Linked DNA regions of Homo sapiens: all the other regions are linked to region 2. Evidence: fine-mapped expression QTL. A gene starts in region 2. Each other region holds a variant in brackets. All regions are shown on one strand. Distances are between the middles of the regions. Region 1 overlaps LOC105371632 (a long non-coding RNA gene). Region 2 holds the start of C1orf220 (chromosome 1 putative open reading frame 220). Region 3 has its middle 60 kb from the start of C1orf220.

The links. PIP is the estimated chance that this variant, and not a neighbour inherited with it, causes the effect.
Region 1: its variant is fine-mapped to the expression of C1orf220 in whole blood (INTERVAL, PIP 0.98).
Region 3: its variant is fine-mapped to the expression of C1orf220 in whole blood (TOPMed, PIP above 0.99). The same link has a PIP of 0.9 or more in blood mononuclear cells.

The regions. Positions count from the first base shown.
Region 1 is chr1:178,569,515-178,572,275 of GRCh38, forward strand. The region is part of intron 1 of LOC105371632 (a long non-coding RNA gene); the gene reads right to left. Among named protein-coding and RNA genes, the nearest start is that of C1orf220, 28 kb to the left of the region's middle. The variant C/T (reference allele first, on the strand shown) is at 1,479.
Region 2 is chr1:178,541,695-178,544,455 of GRCh38, forward strand. It overlaps C1orf220 (chromosome 1 putative open reading frame 220), which reads left to right and starts at 1,102. Exons shown (of 3, transcript NR_033186.1): 1 at 1,102-1,191. LOC124904460 (a long non-coding RNA gene) reads right to left here and starts at 951. Exons shown (of 2, transcript XR_007066748.1): 1 at 340-951; 2 at 1-132. RefSeq lists an enhancer at 797-856 and silencers at 907-1,236, 1,267-1,336.
Region 3 is chr1:178,601,390-178,604,150 of GRCh38, forward strand. No RefSeq gene overlaps it. Among named protein-coding and RNA genes, the nearest start is that of C1orf220, 60 kb to the left of the region's middle. The variant A/C (reference allele first, on the strand shown) is at 1,180.

The DNA.
Region 1 (2,761 bases), 28 kb after region 2:
TTAGTATTTCTATTCCAGTTCTCTTTTGGTTATTGTTTATATGGTGTATCTTTTTCCCTTCTTTTGCTTTCAGACTGTTTCTGTCTTTGAATCTACATTTTGTCCCTTACAAAGAACATATAGTTCTATGATTTTTAAAATCCATTCTGCCAATATCTGTCTTTTAATTGGAGTGTTTCAGTGTTAATCTTGAGGATCCTATGTATATGATGAGTTACTTTTTTTTGCTGTTTTTAAGATTCTTTGTCTATGGCTTTTGACAGTTTGATTTTGAAGTGTCTAGGTGTGGATATTTTGAATTTATTCCACTTGGAGTTTGTTGAGCTTCGTGGATGTGTAAATTCATGTTTTTAATCAAATCTGTTAAGTATTGAGCCCTTATGTCTTCAAGTACTTTTTTTCCCCCTTTCTTTTTCTTGCTTCTTTCTGGTACTTCAGTTATGCCTATTAACACTTGATGGTGTCCCACACAAGTCTTTGAGGCTCTGTTCATTTTCCTTCATTCTTTTTCTTTCTGAGATTGGATAACCACAATTGGCCTATCTTCAAGTTTCCCAATTCTCTCTTCTTCCTGCTCACACCTTTCCTGGTGTTCCTCTTGTGAATTTTTCATGTTAATGCCAGAATTTCTATTTGATTTTTAAAAATAAATTATATCTCTCTCCTTTTTTTTTTTTTTTTGAGATGGAGTCTCGCTCTGTCACCCAGGCTGGAGTGCAGTGGTGTGATCTTGGCTCACTGCAACCTCCAACTCCCGGGTTCAAGCATTCTCCTGCCTCAATCTCCCGAGTAGCTGGGATTACAGGTGCGTGCTACCATACCTGGAAATTTTTGTATTTTTTTAGTAGAGACGGGGTCTCACCATGTTGGTAAGGCTGGTCTCGAACTCTTGACCTTGTGATCCGCCTGCCTTGGCCTCCCAAAGTGCTGGGATTACAGGCATGAGCCACTGTGCCCGGCCAAATTATATCTCTTTATTAATATTTTCTATCTGGTGCGACATTTCTCTTTATTTTTATTTTTTTTCTTTTGTAATAGAGATGTAGTCTTGCCATGTTGCCCAGGCTGGTCTCAAACTCCTGAGCTGGCAATCCTCCCACCTCCAGCTCCCAAAGTGCTGGTATTACAGATGTGAGCCACCATACCCAGCTGAGACATAATTCTCACACTCTGCTTTAGTTCTTTTTTTTTTTTTGAGATGGGGTCTCACTCTGTTGCCCAGGTTGGAGTGCAGTCTCAACTCACTGCAACCTCCACCTCCTGGGTTCAAGCGATTCTCCTGCCTCAGCCTCTCAAGTAGCTGGGACTACAGGCATGTACCACTGCACCTGGCTATATATATAATATATAAATTATATTAATATAATTATTTATATATTATATTTATATAGTATGTTAATAATATAATTAGCCAATATATAATATATGTATATATGTGTATATATTATATCATATTGTATATATTTTTTATATATATA[C/T]ACACATATATATATATATATTTTTTTTTTTTTTGAGGCGGAGTCTTACTTTGTTGCCCAGGCTGGAGTGCAATGGTGTGATCTCGGCTCACTGAAAACTTCACCTCCGGGTTCAAGCAATTCTTCTGCCTCAGCCTCCCGAGTAGCTGGGACTACAGGCACCTGCCACCATGCCCAGCTAATTTTTGTGTTTTTAGTAGAGATGGGGTTTCACCATATTGGCCAGGCTGGTCTCGAACTCCTGACCTTGTGATCCACCCACCTCAGCCTCCCAAAGTACTGGGATTACAGGTGCGAGCCACCGTGATTGGCCAATTTTTGTATTTTTAGTAGAGACGGGGTTTCACCATGTTGGCCAGGCTGGTCTTGAACTCCTGACCTCAAGTAATCCACCCGCCTCAGCCTCTGAAAGTGCTGGGATTACAGGCGTGAGCCATTGCACCTGGCCAAGTTCTTTAGAGATGGTTTCCTTCAGTTTTTTTAGACATGGTTTTCAAATATATATTTGAATATATTTAAAATAACTGGGCCAGGCACAGTGGCTCATGCCTGTAATCCCCAGCACTTTGGGAGGCCAAGGCAGGAGGATCACCTGAGGTCAGGAGTGAGACCAGCCTGGCCAACATGGTGAAACCCTGTCTCTACTAAACATACAAAAATTAGCTGGGCACGGTGGCGGGCGCTTATAATCCCATCTGCTCAGAAGCTGAGGCACAAGAATTGCTTGAACCCAAAACACAGAGGCTGCAGTGAGCCTCTGCCTCCCAAAGTGCTAGGATTACAGGCATGAGCCATCACGCCTGGCCCAAACTAGACATTTTAAATAATATAATGTGGCAACTCTGGAAATCAGATTCTCCACCCTCCCCAGGTTTGTTTTGATGGTGCTGTTGTTTTAGTTCGTTTGTTTATTGACTCTTCTGAACTCTGTTTTCTTTGTCAGGTGAGGCCACTGAAGTCCCTGCTCAGTTAGTTTAATGGTCAGCTGATGATGAACAGAGATTTTTCTTAAACAACTGGAGCCAGTAAGTCTCCCAGTCTTTGCCAAGGGCTTCGTGTGAGTGTCGGGGCGTGCCTTCAACACTAAGCCAGGCAGTCAGCAACTCTGCCTTGGTGTTGTCTTTCTGTTTTTCAGAAAGGTTGAAAAATGTGGCCTTTATTTAGGAGACCATGTGTACAACTAAAAATGAAGGGTTTTTTTTTTAACCAAGGAATGAGGGAAACTAGCTATCTCTGCCGCCTTCATTTTACAGGTGAAGAAACTGAGGTTTAGAGAAGTTCGG
Region 2 (2,761 bases):
CCTGAGCCCTCTGCCCAGAGTAATGCCAGAGTGGAGGCCACAGCTGAAGGCAGAGGCTGTTGGCCTGGGGTGGAGAGGGGAGATTCCTCTGGGTGGAAGGTGACATTGGGCAGCCTTGGATGAAGTGAATACCTGGTGTGGGGAAGCAAAAATAAATAGAGAAACAAACGGATTAATTTTGCTTCTTTCCAGGGACTTGATTTTCTACAAGTGCTGCTCCAAGAGGCTTCTACACCCCCGCAGGGAGGCAAGCACCGTTTTGAGGTGGCCGGGCTGGCGAGGAGGTGCAGACCCCAGCCAGCTGGAGGGGCTCTGCCCTGATGGCGTTCCCACTCCCACCTCATTCGCAGGGCGCCGGGGAGGGCTGCAGGTGTTCTATTCCCACCCGGCTTGCAGCGCAAGGAGGGGAATCGCCTGACACCTTCCCCTTCTCCTCTGCCCCGCTTCCTTTCTCTGCTCCCACAGGTGGAAGTCACCAGCGGAAACAACCCTTCACTGTATGGAGGGCTGGGAGAGAGGGGCCAAGAGGGCCCCGGGAGAGCCACTGGGCGGCAGGCAAGGGGCGGGGCAGTCTCCCTTCCGGCTTCCGGGACCGAAGGGTGAAGGGCAAGGGGAGCTCAGGGAATGAACGAGTGCTCCCGACTAATGTTTAACCCACGACTCCGAGACTCCGACTGGTCACAGTCCTGCAGACCTCCAGGTCCTGCACAGGCGACGCAGCGCTCCACTGGCCCGGAATGCGCACCCCGGGGGAAATGGAAAGTGCCATTGAAATGTCAGATGTCACCGTCTTCATCAGCACTCTTGGAATTTTGGCCAAAGTGGCTTCTTCTTTTGCTGAGACTTGACTCACTCCCGGCAGAGGGATGATAGCGGCCTTGCCCCGAGCGTTTATCCGGCTGCAGGCGTCATTCTTGGTCGCCTGTGTGTCCAGAGCCCCAGCGCAGGAAGGGAGCGCAATTCCCACCGCGCCCGCTGGGTGGCGCTAGCGCCGCACCGTGTCCCGGGATGAGGGGAAACCGCGCTGCCCAGTCAGTACCCCGACGCCCCCGCGCCCCCGCCGGGCCCCGCGCGCTGCAGCCACCGCCTCTTCTCGGCTTCCTCTTGCTTTACAGTAACTCTCCTCCTGGGGAAAAGGCTTTTCACGGAGCAGGCTCGGAGCCTACGGGGCTGGCCTCGGACTGGATGGGGGTAAGGACGGGTGGCGGCGCTCGCGCCGAGCGAACGGAGGGCTCAGGCGGCCGGTGATCAGGGACGGGCTGCGGCCGCCGTCTGGGGTGAGAGGCCCACCCAGAGCTCTGGGCCAGGGCTCGCGGCTCTCGTGCAGATGCTGGGCCGGGAGGTGTGGGGAGGGGGCTTCCCAGGCGGGGCAACCGGAGGGGAATGGGGTGTGCAGGAGGGAGGGGAGGCGTGGAGCGCCCGGCCTGCAGGCACTGGGCGGCGCTCTCCAGCCTCCTCTTCTCCCGCCGGGTGCCTGGTGGCTTGGCCTCCCCTCCAGAGCTTCGCATATCCTGGCGGGAGCCGGCGCTCTCTCTCCATACTTAGGACTTGACCCTTATTCCACACCCGGGCAGGGAATCATTTGCCCAATCCGAATTTGATTTTCTGCTTGTGAGAGGAGAAACTGGTGACAGTGTCGCATGGACACTGTCGGGGAAGCCGAGACGTAGACCTGGAAGCCTGTACCAGAGGCCTTGTGGACAGCTTTGGAGCATGCATCTTAAGGCACACCACCGGTTTCTGCTGCTTTGGCACAGCCACGCAGCACCTAGGATGCTTCTCTGCACGCAGCAGAGGCCTAATCCGTGCACCCTCTGACGGTGTTGGAGGGAGCTGGGGAGCAACATCAGATTAATAGCCCCTGGGCTATTTGTATGACGTGCAGATTTCACCCTCTCATTCTTAAAGGGTGAAAGGCTGCAATTCAGAAAGGCGAAGATGGGGCCCAGGAATCTGCAATCTGCGTGGGGTTTTTTTTTTTTTTATGAAGTCTTGTTCTGTCGCTCAGGTTGGGGTGCAGTGGCGCGATCTGTGCTCACCGCAACCTGTCTTCCAGGTTCAAGCGATTATCCTGCCTCAGCCTTCTGAGTAGCTGGGACTACAGGTGCATGACACCACACCTGGCTAATTTTTGTATTTTTAGTAGAGATGGGGTTTCACCATGTTCGCCAGGCTGGTCTTGAACTCCTGACCTCAAGTGATACGCCCACCTTGGCCTCCCAACGTGCTGGGATTACAGGCATGAGCCACCGCGCCTGGCCAGAGTTTGCATTTTGTTGTTGTCGTTTGTTTGTTTGAGACGGAGTCTCGCTCTGTGGCCCAGGCTGGAGTGCAGTGGCGCCATCTCGACTCACTGCAACCTCTGCTTCCCAGGTTCAAGCGATTCTCCTGCCTCAATCTCCCAAGTAGCGGGGATTAACAGGCGTGCCACCACCATGCCTGGCTAAATTTTTTATTCTTAGTAGAGACAGGGTTTCTCACGTTGGGCAGGCTGGTCTCAAGCTCCTGATCTGCCCGCCTTGGCCTCCCAGAGTGCTGGGATTACAGGTGTGAGCCACCGCGCCTGGCCTGTTTTGTTTTCCTAAATCCAGAAGTTCTGATTCAAGCCTAAACCTGCCACTTCCATTCCCAATCCTCTGAGCTTCATGAGCTCCAGACACAGGGCTGTTAATCACAATTTCTTTAATTCTTTATATCTCTTGTGGAATTAGAGGAGTAGATGTTCTTTCTTTTTGGGAAAAACATTAGAAAATGCCTACAT
Region 3 (2,761 bases), 60 kb after region 2:
TATTTTATTTTATTTTGTCTAGACGGGGTCTGATGATGTTGCTGAGGCTGGTGTCAAACTCCTGCCTCAGCCTCCCAAAGTGTGAGTCATTGCACTGGGTTGTCAGGAACTATTTTAGACGCTGCCTACTTCAAATTATCTCCCACACTCAGCACTCAGATTCTGTGAATACTCCTCCCATCGAAGGAGGCTACACATTCAGTTTACAACCCCAGCCTCCAAGATTCTCAGCCAAACACCTTCATGGCTCTGACATATTCTACATATGGAGTTAACAACATGAAAAACACAGTCAAATAGGAAAATCATGTTATCCAACAGAGTTAGACTGTGAAAAGAAGACATTGCATTTTCTCTATTTCTGTGGCATCTAACATCAGAGGACAGGGTAGACCAGATAGCTAGCTAGCTATCTGTTTATCTACCTATTTATTTTGAGACGGAGTCTTGCTTTGTCGCCCAGGCTCAAGTGCAGGGGCACGATCTCAGCTCACTGCAACCTCTGCCTTCCGGGTCCAAGCAATTCTCTTGCCTCAGCCTCCTGCGTAGCTGGGATTACAGGCACCCACCACCACACCCGGTTAATTTTTGTATTTTTAGTAGAGACTGGGTTTCACCATGTTGGCCAGGCTGGTCTTGAACTCCTGACCTCAGGTGATCTGCCCGCCTCAGCCTCCCAAAATGCTGGGATTACAGGCATGAGCCACCATGCCCAGCAACAGCTATCTTTTTAGAATAGCCATAAAAAATATGTCTTTGTTTAGATCACTTCAGAACCAAATGCTCTGAAGCCAGCCTATCCAGAGAGCCTAGATTGATTTGAGGCCAGTCCCTGCAATGCAAGGGGGGGTGTCACAACTCAAAGGCCACTCCTGAGCTTTCACTTTCTTTCCAAAATAATTGAAGTCAGTGGACTGTCCCCAGAGCTTCTGTGAGGTATTCACATTTTCTCTGGAGTGACGTGACTTTTGTAAGACATCTAAGGCATGTATATGTTATACTTTGGCCTGGCTAAATCTGGAGAATGACAGAGGTCTCCAAACCCCGAGGACTGTTGGGTTGATTTGAATTAAATGAGATGCCCCCTTTCTGCAGAAAATGGAAACTAACATGGCTATCTCTGTCCATTACACAAGACTTTTGTAAAACAGTCATGGTTTCTTTCTTAAAATCTGTTTT[A/C]AACAGTTGGAAGTCCATATTTCCTTCACTAATAGTCCTCCTATAAGTTGTGGTCATAAACCATTTTTTCAAGACTCAGAGAGCTCTTCTCACTTGGAAAGCCATCACACATATTCATCAATTTGGAATCTGCAGCAAAACTGAGCCTTTTCAGCCTCTTACCTATAGATAAAAAGGCTGAGATCCATGTTTCTACTTACAATTCCTAATTTTGAGAATCCCTGAGCAATACATTTTGATCTTGTGAGATTTTAACTGATCCCTTTCAATTTTCTTTTCACCATACTTAAGAATCTAAGGCTTACAGATACCTTGATTCCCAACTCTCAAAGCTTTTTATATGTACTTTCTTATTTGTTCTCTCAAACCTTACGAAAAGAGGCATTAGTTCTTTCCCAGAAGGTAAAATGCATAAAGTATGTGGACCTGGCATCAGATGAGCTGGTTTAGAATCTTAGATCCACCACTCACCAGCACTCAGACTTCGGGCAAGTTACTTAACCTCTCAGGGACTCAAAGAGTCCTCATCTGTAAAATGGGGTTACCCACACCTATCTCACAAAATTGTTTTGAGGACTAAATTCCACACATATATCTATATAAAGCATTTAGCATGGTGCATAGAGCTAGTTAAAAATTTTGGTTGCTTTTAAAGTTATGGAGAAACAAATGGAGATCCTGGGAGTGTCTCCCAATGTTCAACCATATAGGAACAAGAAGGGAATGGAATCCTGAATCTAGATCATCAGTCTTCATTGTAGTTACTTCACTCATCCCTTTTGCAAGTTATCACCAAAACATCCTGGTTCACCACTAAGAAACTCTCCGTAAGCTGAGCCTGAAATGTCACAAAAGACGTGCCGTTCCTGTGACCTCAAATAAGAACAGGTTCGCTCTTGATTTGTCCAGGTAAAAAGAGCATTGCAAGTGATAGATACAGAAATGCTTATGTACCTCCTTTTTGAATTTATATTAGGTTTTACATTTTAGCCTCTGCATCTGAATGGATGAAAAGTGAGCATATGTAACAGTGGGAAACAGGTTTTTCTGTGGAGGCTCCCAATAAGTAGCTCCCATAGACTATTCACAAAGCCAGGTATATAGTTGGAAATTCTTCTCCTTTACTTCTTGAGTAGCACGAGATTGGCTCAGGCTATCCAGAAGTAGCTTTGAGGTATAAGCAACCACATGGACATGGACTATACCCTGAAGCCCGGCTATAAGGGGCAGAGCACTGAAGGAGGCCAAAAGAAGTTCAAAAGCAGGGGTAGATCCCTGACCCAAGGGCCCAGGGCCTGCCTCTGGGAGTGCCTTGCCCATTTCATTAGATATGAGGGAGAGTCACAGAGCAGACTGGCCCAGTAGGTCCTCTCGGCCACTGAAGGATTATAAAGGTCTTTACCAGTTATAAAATAAAAGGGATGAATGCTGATTTTTCAACAATGTTAAATACTCAGCTTTGAAAGGAGGGTTGTATGGCACCATCAATCTCATCTGTCCCCGCTTTCTCTTTGAGTTCTTGCCTCTAGCACTCAGCTCCACCCACAGTTTTCCCTCCTCCCTGGGACTCTCTCTGCCCTCC